Homo sapiens: one gene and its partners. The protein of the gene in region 5 purifies or fractionates together with the protein of the main gene of each other region. This does not show direct contact. Each region holds a gene or a part of one and is shown on either strand. Other genes may lie near its edges.

The links.
Region 1: the proteins of TEX13B (region 5) and DPF3 purify together in Homo sapiens (affinity purification with mass spectrometry; one large-scale study listed by BioGRID and IntAct). This does not show direct contact.
Region 2: the proteins of TEX13B (region 5) and SMARCC2 purify together in Homo sapiens (affinity purification with mass spectrometry; one large-scale study listed by BioGRID and IntAct). This does not show direct contact.
Region 3: the proteins of TEX13B (region 5) and DPF2 purify together in Homo sapiens (affinity purification with mass spectrometry; one large-scale study listed by BioGRID and IntAct). This does not show direct contact.
Region 4: the proteins of TEX13B (region 5) and THTPA purify together in Homo sapiens (affinity purification with mass spectrometry; one large-scale study listed by BioGRID and IntAct). This does not show direct contact.

What each region holds. Positions count from the first base shown.
Region 1 is NC_000014.9:72,621,386-72,625,667, forward strand, and holds part of DPF3 (zinc finger protein DPF3), read right to left. Parts: intron 1-4,282. UniProt on the Homo sapiens protein: Belongs to the neuron-specific chromatin remodeling complex (nBAF complex).
Region 2 is NC_000012.12:56,168,720-56,173,001, forward strand, and holds part of SMARCC2 (SWI/SNF complex subunit SMARCC2), read right to left. Parts: coding exon 4,218-4,282; intron 3,986-4,217; coding exon 3,866-3,985; intron 3,772-3,865; coding exon 3,709-3,771; intron 3,219-3,708; coding exon 2,960-3,218; intron 2,714-2,959; coding exon 2,552-2,713; intron 1,490-2,551; coding exon 1,425-1,489; intron 1,193-1,424; coding exon 1,057-1,192; intron 977-1,056; coding exon 810-976; intron 1-809. UniProt on the Homo sapiens protein: Involved in transcriptional activation and repression of select genes by chromatin remodeling (alteration of DNA-nucleosome topology).
Region 3 is NC_000011.10:65,340,120-65,344,401, forward strand, and holds part of DPF2 (zinc finger protein ubi-d4), read left to right. Parts: intron 1-265; coding exon 266-426; intron 427-846; coding exon 847-954; intron 955-1,279; coding exon 1,280-1,443; intron 1,444-3,625; coding exon 3,626-3,718; intron 3,719-3,871; coding exon 3,872-3,950; intron 3,951-4,282. UniProt on the Homo sapiens protein: Plays an active role in transcriptional regulation by binding modified histones H3 and H4. Is a negative regulator of myeloid differentiation of hematopoietic progenitor cells. Might also have a role in the development and maturation of lymphoid cells.
Region 4 is NC_000014.9:23,554,415-23,559,448, reverse strand, and holds the start of THTPA (thiamine-triphosphatase), read right to left. Parts: upstream 3,179-5,034; 5' UTR 2,692-3,178; coding exon 2,145-2,691; intron 755-2,144; coding exon 609-754; 3' UTR 1-608. UniProt on the Homo sapiens protein: Hydrolase highly specific for thiamine triphosphate (ThTP).
Region 5 is NC_000023.11:107,979,976-107,984,095, forward strand, and holds TEX13B (testis-expressed protein 13B), read right to left. Parts: upstream 2,396-4,120; 5' UTR 2,335-2,395; intron 2,185-2,334; 5' UTR 2,153-2,184; coding exon 1,694-2,152; intron 1,585-1,693; coding exon 1,105-1,584; 3' UTR 889-1,104; downstream 1-888.

The DNA of each region.
Region 1 (4,282 bases), on a different chromosome or scaffold from region 5:
TTTGGATGGCTTATGAGCCTTTTTCAAAATAAAGTTTTATATCAAATCTCACCTTGGCCCCCACCAGTGCAGAAATCCTGGATAAAATTAGATATAGCTGTTGGAATCCCCAGGGAGCAAGCAATGAGGGCTTTTTTTGTCATGCTAAAACCCGTCAGTGGGGCAACAGGAAAGCTTTTGAAGAGTTATCAACAGGGGAGTGATACGATCAGATTGCAGTTTAGAAAGATCTTACTAGCTGCTATGTAAGAGTAGATACCCAGTGGGGGAGAGGTTCATTCAAGAGGCCCGGGGACCAGTTAGGAAGCTGCTATAGCTATCCAGGTGCGTGATGATGGTGGCCTGAATTACAATTGCGGCATGGAGAAAGAAATGGGTCTTGCTCCCATTTAAGCATCATTGATTAGATGGGGAGAGTGATAGGGAAGAAGCCAAGGATGCCGTCTGGGTTGTGGCTTGGTCAGCAAGCCAGATGATACAGCCACCCAATGGGACATGGGAGGAAGAGCAGACTCATGGGAGGGAGAGGGCAACCTCAGCTATAGACATGTTCTACAGATAGGGATGACCTGGAGGCTGTTGAAGAGAGCAGGAGAGAAGTCTGGGCCTGAGATATGGACTTGGGATTCATTGTAATTAGATGGCAAGTGAAGGTCCTAGGAGAGGAAGCCCAGAATGTGTGAGAGCAAATGTCTTTGACCTTGTCTTCATGGAGAAGTGTCCATGAACCCCTTGAAATGATACACACAATTTTGTACATAGGTAGAAATGTACATTTTTCTATGGAAAGAGTAAGTCCGTAGCTTTCATTGAATTCTCTGAAAGATCAAGGACCCAAAAGAGTTTACTGAGAAGAAGGCCAAGAGTTTACTGAGAAGAAGTACACTTGGGGTACTCCAACTTTACAGGACAGGCAGAGAAAAAAAGACTGAAAAGGAACAGTCAGAGAGGTGGGATGAAGACGAGCACACTGTAGTTTACGCCAAAACAGTTACATCATTATTGCAGAGCCAGCATAAGCTACAGGACAATTTGATTTAGGGATAATACAAGGAGAAACAAGTTAGGATGGAGACAGAAAACAGACAGGACTTGTCAGAAACAGTGTTATTAATGCCTTAAAAACAGTAATAACCCCTACTACAGCAGTGACATGGGAAATACAAATAGGTAGAATATCCTGGATTACAATTTCCCAAAGGAAAACTAGGCATCTGAGAGTTTAAGTGCATTTTGCATGGGTTGACCACTGTCTAGCACCATATTCTCTTCTCTTCCACCACCAAGAGCCCCCAGCTTATGCTAACTCTCATGACAAACACAATTTTAGTACCTCTCACTACCAACTATCCAGGAACCAGGAATCACCTATTACTACAGTTCCAGCAGAATGGGAATCCCATTCTCGGATATCCAGGGTAAATCCCTGACCATGTGAGAGGAATCCTAGTGCCCCAACAACCTCACCCCCTGACTCCTCCTCAAAGGCTCTGCCAAGTCAACAAAAAAATCCTCTACATTTACACTATCTGTAAAGCCAAAGACCAGCGTCAACCTAAATGTCCATCAATAAGGGAATGGTTGGATAAGTAAAAATTATGCAGCTGTAGGAAGGAATGAAGAATGTCTATATATTCCTCCAGATTAATCTCTAAGATATTCAGAGAAAACAAGCAAGATGGAGAAAACATATATACTTGTTACCATTTTTCATGGATTCATATATACACACACATGTTTACATTTAAACAAAATGGAAAGACAAATCATATTTTTTAGTGGTTGCCTATATGCAGAGTGAAGGAATAGTGTGGAAGAGGTAAGTAGAGAGCTACATTTCTTTGAATATAATGTTTCTTTATAAATTTGATTTTAGAACCAATAAATATTTTACACAGTCATAAAACAAAATTTAAATAGCAATATGTCCCTAAAAAAAACAAAAGAAAAATGAGGCAAATGAATTTGGTTATGTATCCAATTGGTAGCATAACCACACAGAGAGAAACTATTCCATCTGACTATAAAACAATTAATTTGACAATACATCCTTAGTAGGACATACCTTAAGGTCATACATAAATGCAGATCTGCATATATATGTGTGTGTGTGTGTAATGTTCAGCAATTATATTATTGGTTTAAATATTGGAATCAATATTCTGAGACTGCTTTATGTGCATCAAATGAGTAATTATGTTGGTATTATTGAAGAGCAAGATTTTGTAACATGGTTGAAAGAAAATAGAAATGTAGGCCAATGAAGTTAAGTCAAAAGTCAGTAGTTGGTTCTAAGTATGAACTGGATGCATCAGTATAAATTCATGGTGTAGTGTATCTTTAAAACAAGCAAAAAATATTTTCTACCTCTGTCCACAGAAAGTGCTCCAAAACAATGACTAACAGCAAAATTAGCACCTCTAGCACCCATATTATGTTCTCTAAAGACCATTGCCCACTAAAAGGAATTAGGAGTCCTGGGAGAAATAAGTGATTCCAGGTCTGGAGCATAAAATGTATAAATATATTTACATATTACAAAGTAAGGAAGCTATCAAATACTATTAGGATTATGTCAAAAGGACTCAGGATCCAACCTGAATATGTTACCACTGGTCAAAGATGGGACAATTTTACCTATAATGGATTATAACAAATAAAATATGTTTAAAATCTTAAGTTCATAAACATATTTTTTAAAACCTTAGTCACCTTCAGAAGATGCTAGAGAAACATCACACTATATTTTTATTTATTTATTTGAAATAATTTTAAACTTAGAGAAAAGTGCAGAAATTATGCAGAGAATTGTACTCACTGTGCCCTAATATTAACATATTATATTACTATAGCAGAATTACGAAAATCAGAAAATTACCATTGGTGTAATACTGTTAACTAATCTACAGACTTTATTTTAATTTCTCCAGTTTTCCCACCTATGTCTCTTTTTTTTTTTTTTTTTTTTTCTGAGACAGAGTCTCACTCTGTTGCCCAAACTGGAGTGCAGTGGTGCCATCTCGGCTCACTGCAGCCTCCTTCTCCCGGGCTCAAGCAATTCTCCTGCCTCAGCGTCCTGAGTAACTGGGATTACAGGCATGTGCCACCATGCCTGGCTAATTTTTGTATTTTTAGTAGAGACAGGGCTTCACCAAGTTGGCCAGGCTGTTCTCCAGCGCCTGACCTCAGGTAATCCGCCCGCCTCAGCCTCCCAAAGTGCTGGGATTACAGGCGTGAGCCACCACGCCCGGCCCCCAACCTATGTCTCTTTACCAGGGATCCAATCCAAGATCCCTCATTGCATTTAATTGTTGTGTTTTCTCAGTATCCTTCAATCTGTGACAGTTCCTCAGTTTCTTTGTCTTTCATGAGCTTGACACTTTCAAAAAATCCAAGCCAGTGATTTTGTAAATGTCACTCAATTTCAGTTGGATCTTTTCTCATGATAAGATCCACATATGCATACATTTTTTAGCAAGAATACCACTAAAGTAATGTTGTGCCCTTCTTGGCGCATCATATCGGGGGAAATTGAGGCCAGTACGTCTTATTACTTGTAATGTTATCTGTGATTATATAGTTAAGGTAGTGTCTGCCATTTTTTTCACTGTAAAGTTACTGTTTTTCCCTTTGTAATATACTAATAAGTAATATTGTTGGGGAGATACTTGGAGATTATCTCCTCAACAAGAGAAATAGGATATTTGAGATTATGTAAATATCCTACTTCTCATCATACTTTTGCCCACTAATTTTAGCATCAATTGACAGTTCGTCCTTATAACCATAACTGTGAAGTGTGCCCAATGATTATTTCCCCTTTCCCTCTACATTTACTCATTGGAATTCTGCTCTAAGGAAGAGCTTACCTTCTCCTCTGTTTACTTATTTATTCAATTTTTATATTAGTATAGATATTTATTTTTTCTTTAGGTTATAACCTAATAATGTCATTATTTTTTTGCTCAAGTTTTCCTAGATTTGGTCATTACGGGTTCCTTCAAGTTGCTTCCTGTGTCCTCTAGACGCATGAAAATATCCTTTCATTTTTTGAACACTTCCTTACTTTCTGACACCACATAATCCTCCAGGCTTATCTGGCATATTTTGCATCCCAGCCCTGGAATCAGCCATTTCTCTAAGGATCCATGGTTCTTTTTATGAGAGAATGGTGTTTAGAAACCAATTCCTTGATGCCATGTGTCTTCATTGCTTCTGTGTTGTCATTGCTTCTAGGCCCTCCCAGCCAACACAGCTAGGAAATAAATGTATGTGTAGGTAC
Region 2 (4,282 bases), on a different chromosome or scaffold from region 5:
TGTAATCCCAGCGCTTTGGGAGGCTAAGGCGAGCAGATCACTTGAGTCCAGGAGTTTGAGACCAGCCTGGGGCAACAGGGTGAAACCCCATCTCTGCTAAAAATACAAAAATTAACCGGGCATGCTGGCACGTGCCTGTAATCCTAGCTACTTGGGAGGCTGAGGTGGGAGAATCGCTTGAACCTGGGAGGTGGAGGTTGCAGTGAGCCGAGATTGTGCCACTGCACTCCAGCCTGGGCAACAGAGTGAGACTCCATCTCAAAAAATACATAAATAAATAAACAAGCATGGAGGCTGGGCACGGTGGCTCACGCCTGTAATTCCAGCAGTTTGGGAGGCCAAAGCGGGTGGATCACCTGAGGTTAGGAGTTCAAGACCAGCCTGGCCAACATGGTGAAACCCCATCTCTACTAAAAATACAAAGAGTTAGCCAGGCGTGGTGTAGCACGCCTGTAGTCCCAGCTACTCGGGAGGCTGAGGCAGGAGAATCACTTGAACTTGGGAGGTGGAGGCTGCAGTGAGCCGAGATCTGACAGAGCAAGACTCCGTCTCAAAAGAAGAACATGGAGATAGTGTGGCAAAGGGTAACATGGAGTCAAATACTGACAGGGTTGAAAACAGGCCCAATGGTGATATATTTTTTAAAGCTTAGAGAAGGGATGACTAACTTTACCTCCTCCTGAGATAAAAATAAAAAATAAATAGGTCAGCATTATTTAAGGTGTGAGTGAGGAAAGATTTCCTCTAAGTGAGATGAGATTAGAGAAGTGGACATTTTCTTCCCTGAGGTCTTCAAGGTCTGGCCTCACCTTAGCTTTCACTGCGGCGGCGGCCAGGGCGGCGGCAGCAGCGGTGGAGAGGTTGCCCTCGCCAATGTCCCGCTCCACCTTTGTCTTCCTTTCCCCCTCAGACTCCACCACTTCCTTCAGCACTTCCTCCTGCCCTTCCTTTGGCTCCTTCTCCTTCTCAGGATCGACTGGGCCAGGACAAGGGTTGAGTTAGCCCCACAGCTTCACCTCTGTCCTGCACCCCCACCTACCCTTGTGGGAGGCTCACCTATTGGGTCTCCATCACTCTTCTCGGACTCCTTCTCACTGTCGCCTTCTTTCCCTTTCTCCTCATCCTTCTTGGGAGCCTCGCTGGTTTTCTCTTTTGCTTCCTCCTCTATAGCACCCCCTCCTTCTCGGGGTTCCTGAAATTCCAGTGATAGAAAAGGAGAGTTATCAGGGATTAGGGTGATTAGTTCTCACACAGAGGGGCCAGACGGGGAACTAAATTTATTCCTCTTACTTTGGAGGTGATCTGATTCTAGGAGACAACCCCGTCCAAAACCAGCCCTTGCCCACCTAAGCTGAACAAGGCCAACTTCCCCATCACCACAGTGCTGCACGCAGCCCCTGCAGCTTCCAGAAATCCCTCTATACCTTGGGCTCCTTCTTCTCATCTGTGGCCTGGCCTTCCACCCGAGCCTCGTCATTCCCGCTCTCCTCTGGGCCCATGAGAAAAGAAAGAAAACAGGAAATGTTTAATACACAGTCGTCTGTGTCTAACACTTTTCTTTTTTTTTAGAGACAGGGTCTTGCTGTGTTGCCCAGGTTGGTCTCAAACTCCTGGGCCCACGCAATCCTCCCACCTCAGCCTCCTGAGCAGCTTGGACTATGGGTGTGAGCCGTTGCACCCAGCTTCTCCATAACACCTGTTTTTTTTTGTTTTTTGTTTTTTTGTGACAGGGTCTCACTCTTGTCGCCCAGGCTGGAGTGCAGTAGCACAATCATGGCTCACTGCAGCCTTGACTTCCCAGGCTCAAGTGGTTCTCTCACCTCAGCCTCCTGTGTATCTGGGGCTACAGGCGCATGCCACCATGCCTGGCTAACTTTTTTGGTATTTTTTGTAGAGACGGGATTTTGCCATGTTGCCCAGACTGGTCTCAAACCATCTGCCCACCTCAGCCTCCCAAAGTACTGGGATTACAGGCATGAGCCACTGCACCCAGCCTTCACAAGACTTTTTTTTTTTTTTTTTTTTTTTTGAGAGACGAAGTCTTGCTCTGTTGCCCAGGCTGGAGTGCAGTGGCTTGATCTTGGCTCACTGCAACCTCTGGCACCCAGGTTTAAGTGATTCTCCTGCCTCAGCCTCTGAAGTAGCTGGGATTACAGGCACGTGCCACCACGCCCAGCTAATTTTTGTATATTTAGTAGAGACAGGGTTTCAGCATCTTGGCCAGGCTGGTCTTGAACTCCCGACCTCGTGATCCACCCACCTCGGCCTCCCAAAGTGCTGAGATTACAGGCATGAGCCACTGCGCCCGGCCTTCACAAGACTTTTCTAACAGCCCCTTCTACAAGCAAAGATTTTTCTACCCAAAATCTTCATGAGAGGACTAGTAGGGCTCCAGAGCCCCTGAGGTAAACTCATGGGGAAAATAAAAACCCTACCAATGTTCTCATTCATGTTGTGCTCTAATGCCAACTTGAGGCAGAAATGGCACAGGAGGCCAGGTAGCTCTGGATCTTGTGAAAGGCAAGAAATCTGGGAACCTGCCTGGCCTTACCAATCCGCTCAGGCTCATCAGAGGTGGTTCCTGCAATGCCACTGCTTTCCAGACCGAAGGCAGGGTCCGCCTTGCCTGTTACTTTGGCTGCTTCTTCCACTTTTCGAACATGGGCCTCCACCAAGGCCGTGGGTACCTCTTCCTTCATTTTGGAGAACTCCTCTGCAAGACCCAGAAAGAATGAGGCTGGGAGCGGCACAGTGGAACAGTTCTGGCAATCCCTGCAAAAGCTTACTCACAAGCCCATGTCTTCATCTAAGCTAGTATGGAGCCTAGACAGGTGCCTGAGCTGAGGCCCGCACAGACAAGGCCAGCAGGGCAGCCAAACTTGAGAGGATTCACAGTCTGAGTAACTAGCCCTTCAAAAGCAAACTAAGAAGGCCAGGTGGAACCACCCACCCCCATTACCTAGGGCTGACTTTGCAGCAGCAGAGGCGACTCGGGGATCGACGACAGAGGCCAGGAAGGCAACAGTGCTCATAACAGGGTTGCCCGACTGACTGAAGGGGATGGGTTGGTAGGCCAGGGGGCCTAGGGAGGCCTCTGAGTCCTCCAGGTATGGGTCTTCAATGGGAAGACGAAGAAAATGCAAGATGCACTCGTCCTGTGTGCGGCTTCCCACATGCTCGGACACTTTGTTCCAGTCATCTTTGTACATTTCCAGTGCCTGGTGGTAGTGGTGGAGACATAACTCCGCTTACTTAGCCACTTTTCTCGAAGGCTGACTCCCCCCATCCTACTAAGGGCAGCTGGTTTCAAAGTTCTCTATGTTCTGGTATTTGTGTACTCTGCTAGGTCCAAGGGGGATCTTGAAGTAGCACTAAGAAAGGATATGAAGTTAATGAAATGGCCCAAATCCCCAGCCTGGAGCTGGTCCTGAAGCTCACTGGAGCCTTGACCTCCTAGGCTCAAGCAATCCTCCCACTTAGCCTCCTGAGTAGCTGGGACCACAGGTGTGTGCCACCACACCTGGCTAATTTTTAAAATTTTTCGTAGAGACGGAGTCTCACTATGTTGCCCAGGTTCATCTCGAACTCCTGGACTCAAGTGATCCTCCTGCCTTGGCCTCCCAAAGTGCTGGGATTACAGGCGTGAGCCTCTACACGGAGCCCACTTCTGTTTTCAGAGAAAAACTCTCTTTTCTTTGCCCCAATTACCTCCAGGAGAAGCAGGGTTTCCTGTTCTGTCCACTCACGAGTGGCACTGGCTGCAGCCTTGCTCTGCAGGGGAAACACAGGCAGGTGAGAAGAAAGGAGCCTGTGACCTCTGAGGAGCGAACATTCTCTACCCCTAGAGTCGGCCCGCACCTCCTACCTTGGAGGGAACATTCTTTTTTGTGTACATGTCTGTGCGCAGCCCAAAGTTTTGCATGTCTGTTGGTTTCTCTTTGCCTTTGTCAGGAAAGTTGAGCATTTGTTGGGAAGCAGAGGTCTGCTATTTGTGGAGGGAAAGAAACAGGTGAGTACAAGTGACCACCGGGAGCCAGGGGCTGACAGAGAGAAAAAACAGACAGAAGGAGCTTCTTTCCCAAAGCCAGGGACACCCCTGGGTGGGACTTCCTCCCTTACTGCTGTAGTTCCTCTGCTCTCATGTCTCTTCTTCCCGGGCAGGGGCCCCCCAATAAAGGGGAAAATGAGCAGCCCAGCAGGGTCTGCACCCCACCTACCAGCTCTGGCTTGCCCTTAGCCGTCTCTGGCACCAGGTCATCCAGCTCTTTGCCCTTTCGCCCAG
Region 3 (4,282 bases), on a different chromosome or scaffold from region 5:
CTTTGGGGGTTAAACTTAAGTCTGATTAGACATATGATGAAATCATGTGTTCCTGATGGTAATTTATTTGTAAAGTAATTCCTCATGATGGCCTAGAAAAGGGGCTTCGTGTCCCATGAGGCAGAAGTGGAGGCAAATAGAACGGAAGAGACAGCCACCCAGTCCCTTGAGCCTTCTAGAGAAGCAGATGGCAGGGGAGAGGAATAGCTCAGCACCCTATGCCCCCCGCTCCAACATACACGCCTGATTTCTATCTTCCCTGCAGCCTTGGGGAGCAGTACTACAAAGATGCCATGGAGCAGTGCCACAATTACAATGCTCGCCTCTGTGCTGAGCGCAGCGTGCGCCTGCCTTTCTTGGACTCACAGACCGGAGTAGCCCAGAGCAATTGTTACATCTGGATGGAAAAGCGACACCGGGGTCCAGGTGAGGGTCCAGACTTGGGAGAAGGGGACTCAGGAGCATAAGGAGGAAGAAGCCTCCTCATCTTAGGTGATGAGACAGTTGATAGGGTTTTCCCTACTGCCTTCCACCTATGGATGAATATGGTCTTCCTGTGATTAGAAACCCAGGGAGGATGAAGCAGATGTTTGATACCAGCATCTTTGTTTTCTGCCCTGCTGAGGCCATTGTGTGTCTGGAGAACTATGTGTTAGCCAAGGCCCTGAAGCTTATATATCTATTTTTCTTTTCCACAGACTATTCCACCTAACCCCCTAGGCCCTCACTGTCAGAATTTCTCCCTTGCTCTAGAACTCAAAGGGGGGCCTACTTAATTAGAAAGTGTTTGGTATTACTTTCTAATACTGGGTTAGGGCCTGACTTCTATCTTTCTTCCTGCCACAGGATTGGCCTCCGGACAGCTGTACTCCTACCCTGCCCGGCGCTGGCGGAAAAAGCGGCGAGCCCATCCCCCTGAGGATCCACGACTTTCCTTCCCATCTATTAAGCCAGGTAAGGCACATACTTCCTGAGCAGAGGCGTGGCCTGCTGCATGGTGAGAGCCTGCTAATCACTGTGATATACCAGGCCCAGTACTAGATCCCAAATATACTCAAATGAATATGATGTGATTCTTTCCTTTAAGGACCTCAGTCTAGAAGGGGAGACAGGTAAACAGATAAGTTATGGTGCCAAGTGAACTAGGGTGTCTTAATTCCTGGGCGTGCAGAGAACAAAAGATAGTGACAGACCTTTGGTAAGCCCCAGCATTATGTGGACTCAGAGCAGTCTGCTTTCAGCCCTTTTGAGCCTTGCTTTATCCTGACCTTGCTTGCAGACACAGACCAGACCCTGAAGAAGGAGGGGCTGATCTCTCAGGATGGCAGTAGTTTAGAGGCTCTGTTGCGCACTGACCCCCTGGAGAAGCGAGGTGCCCCGGATCCCCGAGTTGATGATGACAGCCTGGGCGAGTTTCCTGTGACCAACAGTCGAGCGCGAAAGGTACAGGATTATCCCTGTGGCTAAGGGAGCTTTGATGGAAATCAGCCTCCTCTTCACTGGGGGCCACCTAGTTTCTAGAACTGAAACAGAAGCTGGAGTCCAGGAAGCAGGCCCCTGCAGTTCTGTTCTTACTTCAGTCCCTGATTATTGTCAGGTACTGACTGGCTTCTCTGTTGCTTCTAACTATAGACTCTCATTCATTCACTTTTATCACAGAAGGTTATTATTATACACATATATAATTTTCATTAAAAAAATTAAAATAGGCCAGATGCAGTGGCTCATGCCTGTAATCCCAGCACTTTGGGAGGCCAAGGCAGGAGGATTGCTCAAGTCCAGGAGTTCGAGACCAGCCTGGGCAACAAAGTGAGACCCCATCTCTACAAAAAAATAATAATTAAAAAAAAATAGCCAGGCATAGCAGCATGCGCCTGTTGTCCCAGCTACTAGGGAAGCTGAGGTGGGAGAATCACTTGAGCCTATGAGTTCGAGACTGCAATGAGTCATGATCATGCCACTGCACTCCAGCCTGGGCAACAAAAAAAAAAAATTAAAACCAGAAGGTGCAAGAATAGTACAATGAAATACCACATACTCTTTACCTAGATTTATCAATTCCACATTTTGCCACATTTGCCTTATCTGTCTTTGCTAAACTATTTGAGAGGAAACTTCAAAAACTTTTCAGTCTAGGCAACATAGCAGGACCTTGTCTCTACTAAAAATAAAAATAAAAAATTAGCTGGGCATGGTGGCACACGCCTGCAGTCCCAGCTACTCAGGAGGCTGAGGTGGGAGGATTGCTTGAGCCCAGGAGATTGAAGCTGTAGCTCTGCTTATGCCTCTGCACTCCAGCCTGGGTAACAGAGGGAGACCCTGTCTGGGAAGGGAGGGAAACAAACTTTTATCCCTAAGTGCTTTACTCTTTTATCACAAAAGTTTGTGTCACAGTTTTTTGGTCCCTGAGGTTACACAGTGAAGCACACTTAGTCTCTGCCAACAGAGAAGATAAGAATACATGTAAAAATAACAGCTATAAATATGCCAGCATTGGGTTAAGTGCCTTTTCATGCCCTTTCTCCTTTAGTCTGTACAACCTTATGGGGTAGGTCCTGTGTTCCCCATTTCACACAGAGGCTGAAACAAAGCAGTTTAAAAACTTCCCATGGGTCGGGCACGGTAGCTCACGCCTGTAATCCCAGCACTTTGGGAGGCCGAGGCAGGCGGATCTTGAGGTCAGGAGATCGAGACCATCCTGGCTAACATGGTGAAACCCCGTCTCTACTAAAAATACAAAAAAAATTAGCCAGGCGTGGTGGTGGGCACCTGCAGTCCCAGCTACTCAGGCGCAAACCCGGGAGGCAGAGCTTGCAGTGAGCCGAGATTGCGCCACTGCACTCCAGCCTAGGTGACAGAACGAGACTCCATCTCAAAAAAAAAAAAAAAACTTCCCATGGCCGGCCACGGTGGCTGACGCCTGTAATCCCAGCACTTTGGGAGGCCGAGGCAGTTGGATCACCTGAGGTCGGGAGTTCGAGACCAGCCTGACCAAGATGAAGAAACCCCGTCTCTACTAAAAATCCAAAATTAATCAGGTGTGGTGGCGCATGCCTGTAATTCCACCTACTTGGGAGGCTGAGGCAGGAGGATCGCTTGAACCCAGGAGACGGAGGTTGCGGTAAGCCAGTATTGCGCCATTGCACTCCAGCCTGGGCAACAAGAGCGAAACTCTGTCTCAAAAAAAAAAAAAAAAAAAAAAAGCTTCCCACAAGGTCACACAAATAAGCAACAACATTTTAATTTAAACTAGGAGGCGAGTGTCAGGACAGAACCACCAATAATGTGCTCCCAGGGTGGCCAATCAGAGGCAGGAGAGGGCATGGCTGCTTGTGGCATCAGGGCAACCTTTTGGAAGCATGCTATTTGATTTGGCCATGTGGCATGGTGGGGAAAGCATTTCAGGCTAAGGAAATAACGTGAAGCACAGGGGAAAGATATCCCAAAGTATGGAAGGGAGCAGGAGCAGGATTATAGCATGCTTGAAAGGCGTTGGTGAGGAATGAGGCTGGTGTGGGTGGGACCACGTCACAGAGGAGGTTCTGGGTGGCCTTGGCCAGTCTCATCATAGGGGAGCTTTTGGATGCACATATTTCTACCCATGCTAACCCTCCTGTCCACTCAGCGGATCCTAGAACCAGATGACTTCCTGGATGACCTCGATGATGAAGACTATGAAGAAGATACTCCCAAGCGTCGGGGAAAGGGGAAATCCAAGGTGAGGGGCCAGCGTGCTGCCTGCATCTTGGGACAGGGTGGCCTAGGGAATTCCTTATTTTATTTCAAGTGAGATTAGCGGCCACTTCCAAAAGAGTCTAACTCCTCAGGCCCAGCTACCAAAATAAGGGTGTCTCTTTGCTCTTCTTGGCAGGGTAAGGGTGTGGGCAGTGCCCGTAAGAAGCTGGATGCTTCCATCCTGGAGGACCGGGATAAGCCCTATGCCTGTGACAGTGAGTGCCTCACAAGTGGGTGGGTAGACCTTGCCTTGGACCCAGCTCCTGCTCTGGATATGAGAGGAGGGAGGGTTGTGTTTTTGCCCAGAGTATTAAAACAAACCTGGGCTCTTGTCCTGCCTGCTGACTGCTTCCGTCTGAGACCCCTGGGAGGCCTGGGTCCCTGCTATATGACGGGTGGGACCTGCATGCTCTGGGAAAGATTTCTGCCATCCTCTGGGGTAGGGTTGCTTGTGGGGGCCACAGCAGGCAGGGTTGGCCTCTCAACAGATGGCCTGCAGGTCTCCTGGCCTCAGTTAAGCCAGGGCCCCAGGGGTCTGACACTGAGT
Region 4 (5,034 bases), on a different chromosome or scaffold from region 5:
GGAGGGGGCAGCTGTTGGTTCTTTCTAACCCTCTCCAGGTCAGGGAACAAATTTGCCCCTAAACTTCCACAGGAGGCACTCTACCCTCTGGGCCAGAGCTGGGCACAGTGGCAAAGTCAGATTAGAATTTCTAGAGTTCTAACAGCGATTCCCAACCATTTCCTCAACTTTTCTTCTGTTTCCCACATCCCAAGGCAGGGAAATCCCTGCTGCCTCTCCTCATCTTCTAACTCAGCTGTAAGGCGGTTTAGGAGCCGCTGGCAGAATCAATGGCATCGACCAAGGGAGGGGGGGTGGCAAGGGATTTTCCTGTGCTTAACTACTGATCACGGCTAAGTGGAAATCCTATAAACACGAGCGGAAATCAATGGAGGCTGCTTAGCGGCCAGGGGAGAGGGGCGGCCCACAGATTGCATCTGACGGATGAGCGAGAGGAAGCAGCCAGGGAGGGCTCAAGGAAGAGTAGCTTAGAGGAGGGGGAAGAAACAGGCAGCGCTGGAGAGAGAGGAGTCACTGTCAGAAGGGACACTGAGGGGAGAGGCACAGTGGGCCCAGGAGTGGACTCCGTTAGACCCAGAGTTCCCTTCCCCTTCTAGGAAGTGACACCCCTAGCCCAGGCAGTGGTCAGGATCTTCAGTCTCCTGTGGCCTCTCTCTGGAGCTGTTCACTTCTAGCAGGCGCTGATAGTCTTGAGGCCGGAAACGCTGTAGATACACAATCAGCTTGGCTGGTGCTGTCTCCTGTGCAGGCACACCTACAGGTAAAAGGACAATGAGGAGAGAAATGGACAGAGCCACAAGCACTTGGACTCTGCTCCCTGCCCACCTAGCCAGGACTCCGTGGATGTTTCCAAAGCCACACTGGGGTTCTGAATGTCACCCACCCAGCTTCTGTAACACACTAGTCCACTCCCTGCCTGCCTGTGGAAGTGGGACCTAAAAGAGCAACTTCAGGCAAGAGTGGGACTAGAAGCCACACCTCAGCCTCTCTCCTCCAGCAAGGAGAAATGGCGAAGAGGCACCCAGGCACCAAGATAAACGAAGGATGCCTCAGCGTCAGCTCATTTCAGTTATTACCCTGTTCCGCAATCAAGATTAAAGCCCTAGACCAGGCCAAAGCTCATTAGCTTAGTAATGAAGCACATGCAGAGATGTACACATAGAAACCAAGAGCTATAGAAAGAAGAGGAGGGAAGCTATAGCCATGGGGTGGGATTCACATAGAATTCTCGCCTCTACATGGTGAGGTGAGAATGGAACTGCCTGTTGCCAGTGTCTTGTTGTTAGTGCCTGGCAGCATGCTGGGCACATAGCAAGGAACTCAGTGTATGTTTGCTGAGGGGGCTCAAACAGCACTGCAGGGCTGTAAGGCCCCATGGGATGCACAATTCCTAGTGTGGATGAACTGTCTACAAGGGAATTATGCTTAGGAACAAATCTGCCAAATCATGCCCCACTGTCTCACATAACTATAATGTTATTGTCCTTTACAAAAAGCCAAAAGGACAAATTAAAAGGATCTAGGTAATTGTAAAACAAAAGGACAAGACTGGTTGGACTCTCAGTGTAGTGGGCAGTGCATCAGTCTCATGATCTGAAGATCCTGGGTCTGAGCCTCCCAGAGGGCAGCTTTTGTAAAAAGGCTTACTTTTTACTCCTTGTGGAGGAGTGGTGACTGAAGAAGAAGAAAAAAAAGAGATTGGGGGAAGGAAGAGTCAAAGCAGGGAACTGAGAAATGAAACTGAAGGAGATCTGGCTATAGGTATGAGAACTAAATGAGGCAGGTTGGCTGGAATTAGACACGTGGAAGGACTAGATCCAAATTAGCTACTGTTAAAGAGAAAACGAGATTTCACAGAACTGTAAGCAAACTTAGAAAATTGCTAAAACAATTCCCATTACAAAAATAATCCAGGCCAGGCACAGAGGCTCACACCTGTAATCCCAGCACTTTGGAAGGCCGAGGCAGGCAAATTGCTTGAGTCCAGGAGTTCCAGACCAGCCTGGGCAACACGGCAAAACCTTGTCTCTATTAAAAAAAAAATTTTTAATCCGGAGGCCCTCCCCCACTGCATGGTCCAGCAGGTGCCTCCAAAAGAGAAAAGTGGGGAGCAGGAAAAGCACAAAAGGGCCTGTCTCCCTCACCAAGCATGCTGCTGAGCCTGTGGATCTTCTCTAGGGCAGTTGGTACTTCAGCCTCCTCATGCACCAGGGCCTCTACCTCACCCACAGCGTAGCCAAAGTCGGCTGTATCCAAGTCCACCCTGAGCTGTGGCTCCTCTTCATCAGCTCCCAAGAGCACCAGCTTCCAGGCACTCCGCTTAGTCACAAAACTAGCTACTTCCTGCAGCCCCAGTGGGCCCAGCACAGCAGCCACATCTCCAGCCCCCAGGCCGTCAGCCCGCAGCACCTTACAGAGTTGGGCCACAATTGTAGGTTCCGCTGTGAGTTCCTTATACTCCGTGTGGGGTCCTAAGACACCTGCTGCTCCAGGACATTTGAGCTCCCATCCACTATCCTCTCGTCGTCGCAGCCAGTGGTCAGCCTGCATGAGGCTCAGCTCAGGGGTGTCATAGTAGGTGTCTCGGAAGGTGACCCGGTACTCCAGGGTGCCCCCCAACTCCTGCAGCCGCTCCTCTGTGCCAGGCCCTGGAAGGAACTTTCGCTCCACCTCAATCAAGCCCTGGGCCATGCTACCTGCAATTGGCTGAACAAACGTTTGCTGAGTTCCCAAGGATGCAAAGCCTGGTGCTCAGCTCCTGGGGCGTCAACTCAGTACAGAACCCCTCCCTGGAAAAACTTATGAGGGGCACACTGTGTCGCAATAGTCTCTAGGGCTACTGCCCTTTTCTCTCTACCTCGGTGACATTAAGGCCCCGTCGGTGATATTTTAAGGCTCTGACAGTGACAGGTCTCCAGTAAAATCCCTTCCACTGCTGCTGATGTCCTCAATCCAAAGAGACCCCTAGAAAGCAGGCCGGGTAGCGGGTGTCCTTTCAACGCCCCCCTCTCTACACCTTGCCACCCCAGGAGGCTACTGGCTCACGACCCGGGAGGACCTGCCCTTTCCTGCTACACTACCGGCCAGCGGAACTTCAGGTCTCACCTCAAAGCCCGAGAGTCTCCTCGCGGGACCCACAGAGGGGGAAGGGAGCCCACGCCATACACTCGCGAGGAATGCCGGGAGCAGTTCCGGATCCCGGACCTCGGCCCGACCCTCCGCGCGCCCGGCAGGTCCCGGCACCAGCGGCCATATTACGCCCGTTGTGGCGGTGCCGAGAGCAGGCCAGGGCTCGAGACACGCGCTATGTAATGGGAGGCCGCGACCCCCGCGGTGGCCAGGGGAGCGAGGCCGCCCCTTGCATTCTGCTCCTCATTGTTGGCCCCGCACGGCTCCCGGGGGCTGGTACAGGTCTCATGCCTGAGGCTGAGCCAGGCACCCCGAGGCGCGGATGCATGATGGGAGATGTAGTTCCAAAGGGAGACTTTGCCATCTCGCCCCGCCCGTCGCTATGGCGACAGGAAAGCTGCACTTGGTGCCTGCGGTACTCTACCTAAAGCTGAACTGGGGCTACAAGGCGGCGGGGAGAGTCGGGTGCAAGGAGCTCAAGCCCCAGTCCCGTCTCCAACACCCCCCGCCGCACCCCCAACGCAGGCAGATGGGCCTGGAATACAAGCCATTCACACCGTCCAACAGATATCTGCTATAGCAGCCAGCTAAGCGCAGGCCAGTGGCAATGGTGGCGAGGGGGGTTGGGGTGGGGGGAGGGAAGGGGGCGGGGGCAGCGCGTAATAAAGTCCAGTTTAGCTACTCTGGAGTTTTAGAGGGGATCTAATACCTCCTGGCATGAACGTTGAGGGTAAGAGTGGGTGAGAAACTTTCTGTCAGAGAATAAAGTGGTATTTTGGCCAGGAACTAAAGATATGATGGTATTTCAACAGTTGGAGACCTAGATGGAGACAGGAATAGCCTAAGCAAAGGCCCAGAAACTGGAGAGCACCTGGGTGGTACGTAAGGAGAAGACGAGGCTAGAAATGCAGTTGAGGGAAAAGCCTTGAGTGCTAGACTGAGGAGTTTGTCAGAGTTTCCAGCGGTCCCTAAGCAGTTTTTGTCAGGTGTAGAACTACTTATGTTCATTTAGAATACAGAAAGGCCGGTGCGGTTGCTCACACCTGCAATCCCAGCACTTTGGGAAGCCGAGGCAGGTGAATCACCTGAGGTCAGGAGTTCGAGACCAGCCTGGCCAACATGGAGAAACCCCCCCGGCCCGCCGTCTCTACTAAAAATGCAAAAATGAGCCGGGCATGGTGGCGCGTGCTTGTGTTCCCAGCTACTCCAGAGGCTGAGGCATGAGAATTGCTTGAACCTGGGAGGCAGAGGTTGCAGTGAGCTGAGATGGCGCCACTGCACTCCAGCCTGGGCGACAGAACGAGACTCCATCTGTCCCCAAAAAAATAAAATTCAGGAAAACATGGGGGTTGGCCCTTTGAATGCTTTGGGAGACAAAATATTAATAGAGATGATTCCTTCTTACTCCCTCTGAGGACTATGGTTATCTGGAGACTCTAACTATATGTCTGACCTTCCATGTGAGGAAGCTCCCTGAGGAACCGTGGCTCTTAACTCCTGGACTCCTTCCTATGATGGGTGAGAAGTGCCATGTTCTCAACACCTGCCCTCTCACCAGTATGTTTCTGGAAATACATGACCAGTGAGAGGTATTATAGGGAGAAGGACACTGGTTTAAAGACATGGCATTTTGGCCAGGTGTGTTGACTCACACTTGTAATCCTAGCACTTTGGGAGGTCGAGGCAGGAGGATCATTTGAGGCCAGGAGTTTGAGACCAGCCTGGGCAACATAGGAAGACCCTGTTTCTACAAAAAAAAAAAAAAAAAAATTTTAATTAGCCGGGTGTGGTAGTGCATGCCTGTGGTCCCAGCTGCTCAGGAGGTTGAGGCAGCGGGATAGCTTGAGCCCAGGAGGTCAAGGGCAGTGAGCTACGATCCTGCTACTGCCTGCACTCCAGCCTCGG
Region 5 (4,120 bases):
GAATCTCCACTGCTCACCACACCCTGATGCAACTCCCCAGCCAGTCCCACCATTTTCTTTAATGGTCTTTTGTTCAAAATTGCTCTTCTGGTACAAACTTCTGACTGGGAAATAATCTGGTTGCTCAGAACAGAAACTCACTCAAATTAGTTTAAAGTAAAGGGGATCTGTGTAAAGTACATTTTCCTGTAGCACAACTACAGGAAGTGAAAAGTGATTGGGCCATCACTACCCTCTCCATCTCTCTGTAGTCACAGGATGAACTCCTCTATGCCTGTCTGCTCCCTGAAACCTCATACTGGCGTCCTCTAAAAGACACTTGACTCTGTAAAGCATCCAGTTCTGTTCCCCCACAGCCAGGGCCAGGCCTCAGCTATGGCCTTGGTGTCCATGGCTGTGACCCTGGCCCCAACTCCAAGTGACCCACTGCTTCATTGCCCAACACTATTCTGACTGTGGAATCTGCCTGTCTGTTCAGATTTTCTAACGTAAAAATTCATTTGGCTCAGGATTGGTCAAATATCCACTCCTGCTCCAATTATCTAAAGCCTACATGAAGGGAGAGAGTGTAGGTGTTACATACTGCCCAGGTCCGACAGATACTTAAGATAGGGAGCTAGAGACACACACACAAATAAAAACTGCAGTAGTTCTGGAGTGTTGACTACTAATACTCTGAAATACAAATGGAGTCATTAAAACATGTCTCTCCCTGCCTGTCATCTACATCCTCCCACCCACAACCCCGCCTCCCCGCCCCCCTACTGTCCAATCTTCCCACTCATCCCCTTTCCCCCACTCCACCCAATCCCCCTCCCACCTCTCCCCTCTCCCCCTGAAGATTGATTTCCCATTGAGATATATTTCTGTTCTATTTTACATTTCTGAATTTACTGAGGCTTTTGCAGCCAGATTCGCCTCCCACAGAGGAAGCAATTTTCCCTCCATGAAAAATTCACAGCTTTACACCACGGGCAGTCCCAGTTCCCTGGCCTGCGATATACTGGAGGTCTTCTCTGCTGATGGAGTTCGGAGTCTCTCCTGTCTCTTGGGGGCTCTTGAGGGTCTATTCCCTGGGCCTCCACATCTGACCACAGGCTAGCATCAGAGGCCCCCCAGTTGAAAGGCATCTGAGTTGGAACCCGTTCTGTGACCTTTGCTGGTGAAGGGGGTATATTGGGTATGGCTGAGAAGGCGGACAAAGGGCATGGGTATGAGTATGTGAATGAGGTAGGGAGCTGGACAGGAAGAGGCTCCAGTGAGACTGTGGACCCAAGCCCAGAGAAGACAGACATGGCTGTTTGTACTGACCTGAGATCTTTCTCCCTCTGCCCCGCAAAGGTGTAATTTGCCTGCTACAATAGCTCCGAGGGGCTGCCTGAAGCCTCCTCCCAGCCCCTGCAAGACCTCTGCGGGGGCAGGCCCTGCCTCTGCATACCTCTCCTCTCCTTTTCCTCCAGCAGCACCAGCAGCAGCCACCGCCTCCTTTTCCTGCTCACCTGCTCCTTCTGTCCAATCCCCTCCGGCAGTGGCCAGGCCTGGAAACACTGTAGCCTGGCCCTGTCCCTGGGGAGGTGCCAGCTCCTGGAGAGAAGTAGGCAGAGCTGAAACACATTCTGGGGACAGGGCAGGGGGTCCGGACAGGTTGGGGCAGGGCAGAGGCATTGGACAGGGACCATTCGGGGGATCTTACGGCATGGAAGAGCTTCCATCTCAGCATGTCCCGCTCTCTCTGCACCTCCGCAAGGCTGGTCTCGGTTAGCTGCAACTGGAAGGTCGCCTCATTGCATTCCATCTCCTGCTGTTCCTTGAGTTCCGTCAGGTTTGAGGCCAAGACCAGCGCAGCTGATCTGTGCAGTTTGGCAAAGCCTTGCAGCCACTGCACCCTGCGGTTTTGTAACTGCCCCTGCCTGTGGGCAAAGCGCACACCCAAGGCCAGGCTGCCCCAGGTGCAGGCCTCTTTGACCTCGCTGGGCACCTCGCTGTCCTCCAGGATGGCCCTGAGCTTGTCTTCCACCTCCTCCCAGGATAAGGATATATTCTCGAAGTAGAACTCGGGGCCTTTCGTGTGCCTGGCCATTTTCTCGATGATGAAGGCCACCACGTTTCCGTGCCGGAACCCACTACTGGGGTCCTCAGGTCTCAAGGCCATGATCGCCTAGGGGCTTAACGGTTTCACTAGCCCTGTGTGGATGGAGCAGCCAATAGGTTTCTTTCCTCCTCCTTAGCCCCTCCCCTCATCTGTCTTCTCCGCCCTCCCACCTCTGACAAGACCCTCCTAATGACCCTCTGACCGGCTTGTCCTACCCTAGGACATCTCCCACCAGGCCTCACCTCTTCAGCCAGGGCCAGAGGAAGTACAGGCCAACCCCGCTGCTTAACACGCCTGAAGAGAGGGTGGCCTCTTTCCCTCCTAGGGCTCTGCGGGAAAAGAAGCCTCAGGGCCAACCCATGAGGATTTTACTCTGGGACTGTTCCAATTTCCAGAGACTGTAGGGGTGAAAGGGAGTGAGTGAGGAAGGCCTCTGCCATTCCACTGGGACAAAAGGGAACCTGCCACATGGTCGGGAGACCTTGAAGGCTGAAAGAAACAGGAGTGGTCCGGAAGGACTTAGGACCAAAAAAAGTATTTGTGAACAAGTTGAAGACTTATCCCTCCCCATCATAATGGTTTGTGCCATGCCAGGGGAGTTTCGCCCCCAACTGGAATATTCTAGAGCAGGAAACAGCCCCAACCCCTCAGTTGCCCTTGGAGGAAGAGGGTGGAGCCAGGAGCGGAGCTTATCCCCTGTTTGCTCAGGACTAAACATCCCAGACACCCTAACAAATCCTGGCCTGCCTTTCCTCCCTTAGCTCCTCTTTCCCCACACTCCTCCCATCACCCCTTCTCCCACTCCTCCCCTACTGAAACGCCTTGAATCTTGAAGCAACTGTGGGAGAAAGAGAGTTAGGAGTAGCATAAATACACCTTTTTACCAAAACATGAAATATCAGAGATCTTCCATCAGAGGGATATGAATATGTCTCTTAAAACCTTCGGCCGGGCGCGGTGGCTCATGCCTGTAATCCCAGTACTTTGGGAGACCGAGATGGGCGGATCACGAGGTCAGAAGATCGAGACCATCCTGGCTAACAGGGTGAAACCCCGTCTCTACTAAAATTACAAAAAATTAGCCAGATGTGGTGGCACGCGCATGTAGTCCCAGCTACTCGGGAGGCTGAGGCAGGAGAATCGCTTGAACCCACGAGGCGGAGGTTGCAGTGAGCCGAGATCGCACCACTGCACTGTAGCCTGGGTGACAGAGTGAGACTCTGTCTCAAACAAACAAACACAAAAACAAGAAAACCTTGAATGACTTTCTGAGACCCACAAGATAAATCAGACAAATCTCAGGTTGAGTCCAGCGTTGCTACGTATTACATGACATTGTACTGTAACTGAATCTGTTTCTACCTATGGATCTATGATGATGGCCAATGACAAAAGGGCATGTAAAGTTGTAGGAGTAATGTTTTCTATGATCCCGTATTTGTGTGTATGTGTGTGTTTGCATATGTTTGTATGTTTCTATAATCTTGGAGAACAGAATGAGAGAGGATATATAGCAGACTCAACATTAATTATCTCTGGGAAGTGGGGTTGGACTGGAGGTTAGAAAAAAAGTTTTTAACTTTAAAATACATTTTTCTCTAATTTCGCTTGTTACAAAGAGCATATAACTAACTATATGTATGCATACATCACAAATCTGGAAAGTTATATACTAACACTTTAACAGTGGTTATCTTTGGGTAATAGGAATACAGTACTTTAAAAAATATTCTTGACATTTTTCTCTATTGTAAAATTGTTTATAATAAACGTGTTATGTTTTTCAAAATTGAAAAAAAATGTTTCTCCCAGTAACAGCTGATCATTGTAAATAATTTTTAAGTGCTTGGAAAGTACTTCTATAATCCTACCCTTCCTTCAACCTGGGTGATAATCCCTCTTAATAGTTATATAGTCTTTTAGATAGGCCATAGCAAGTAATTTTTAGTTTTTCAAACGAAGCATCTTCTCTCTTCCTCTGTGGCCCTTGCACAGGCTCCTCTGTGCATGCACGGATTTCTCCTCATC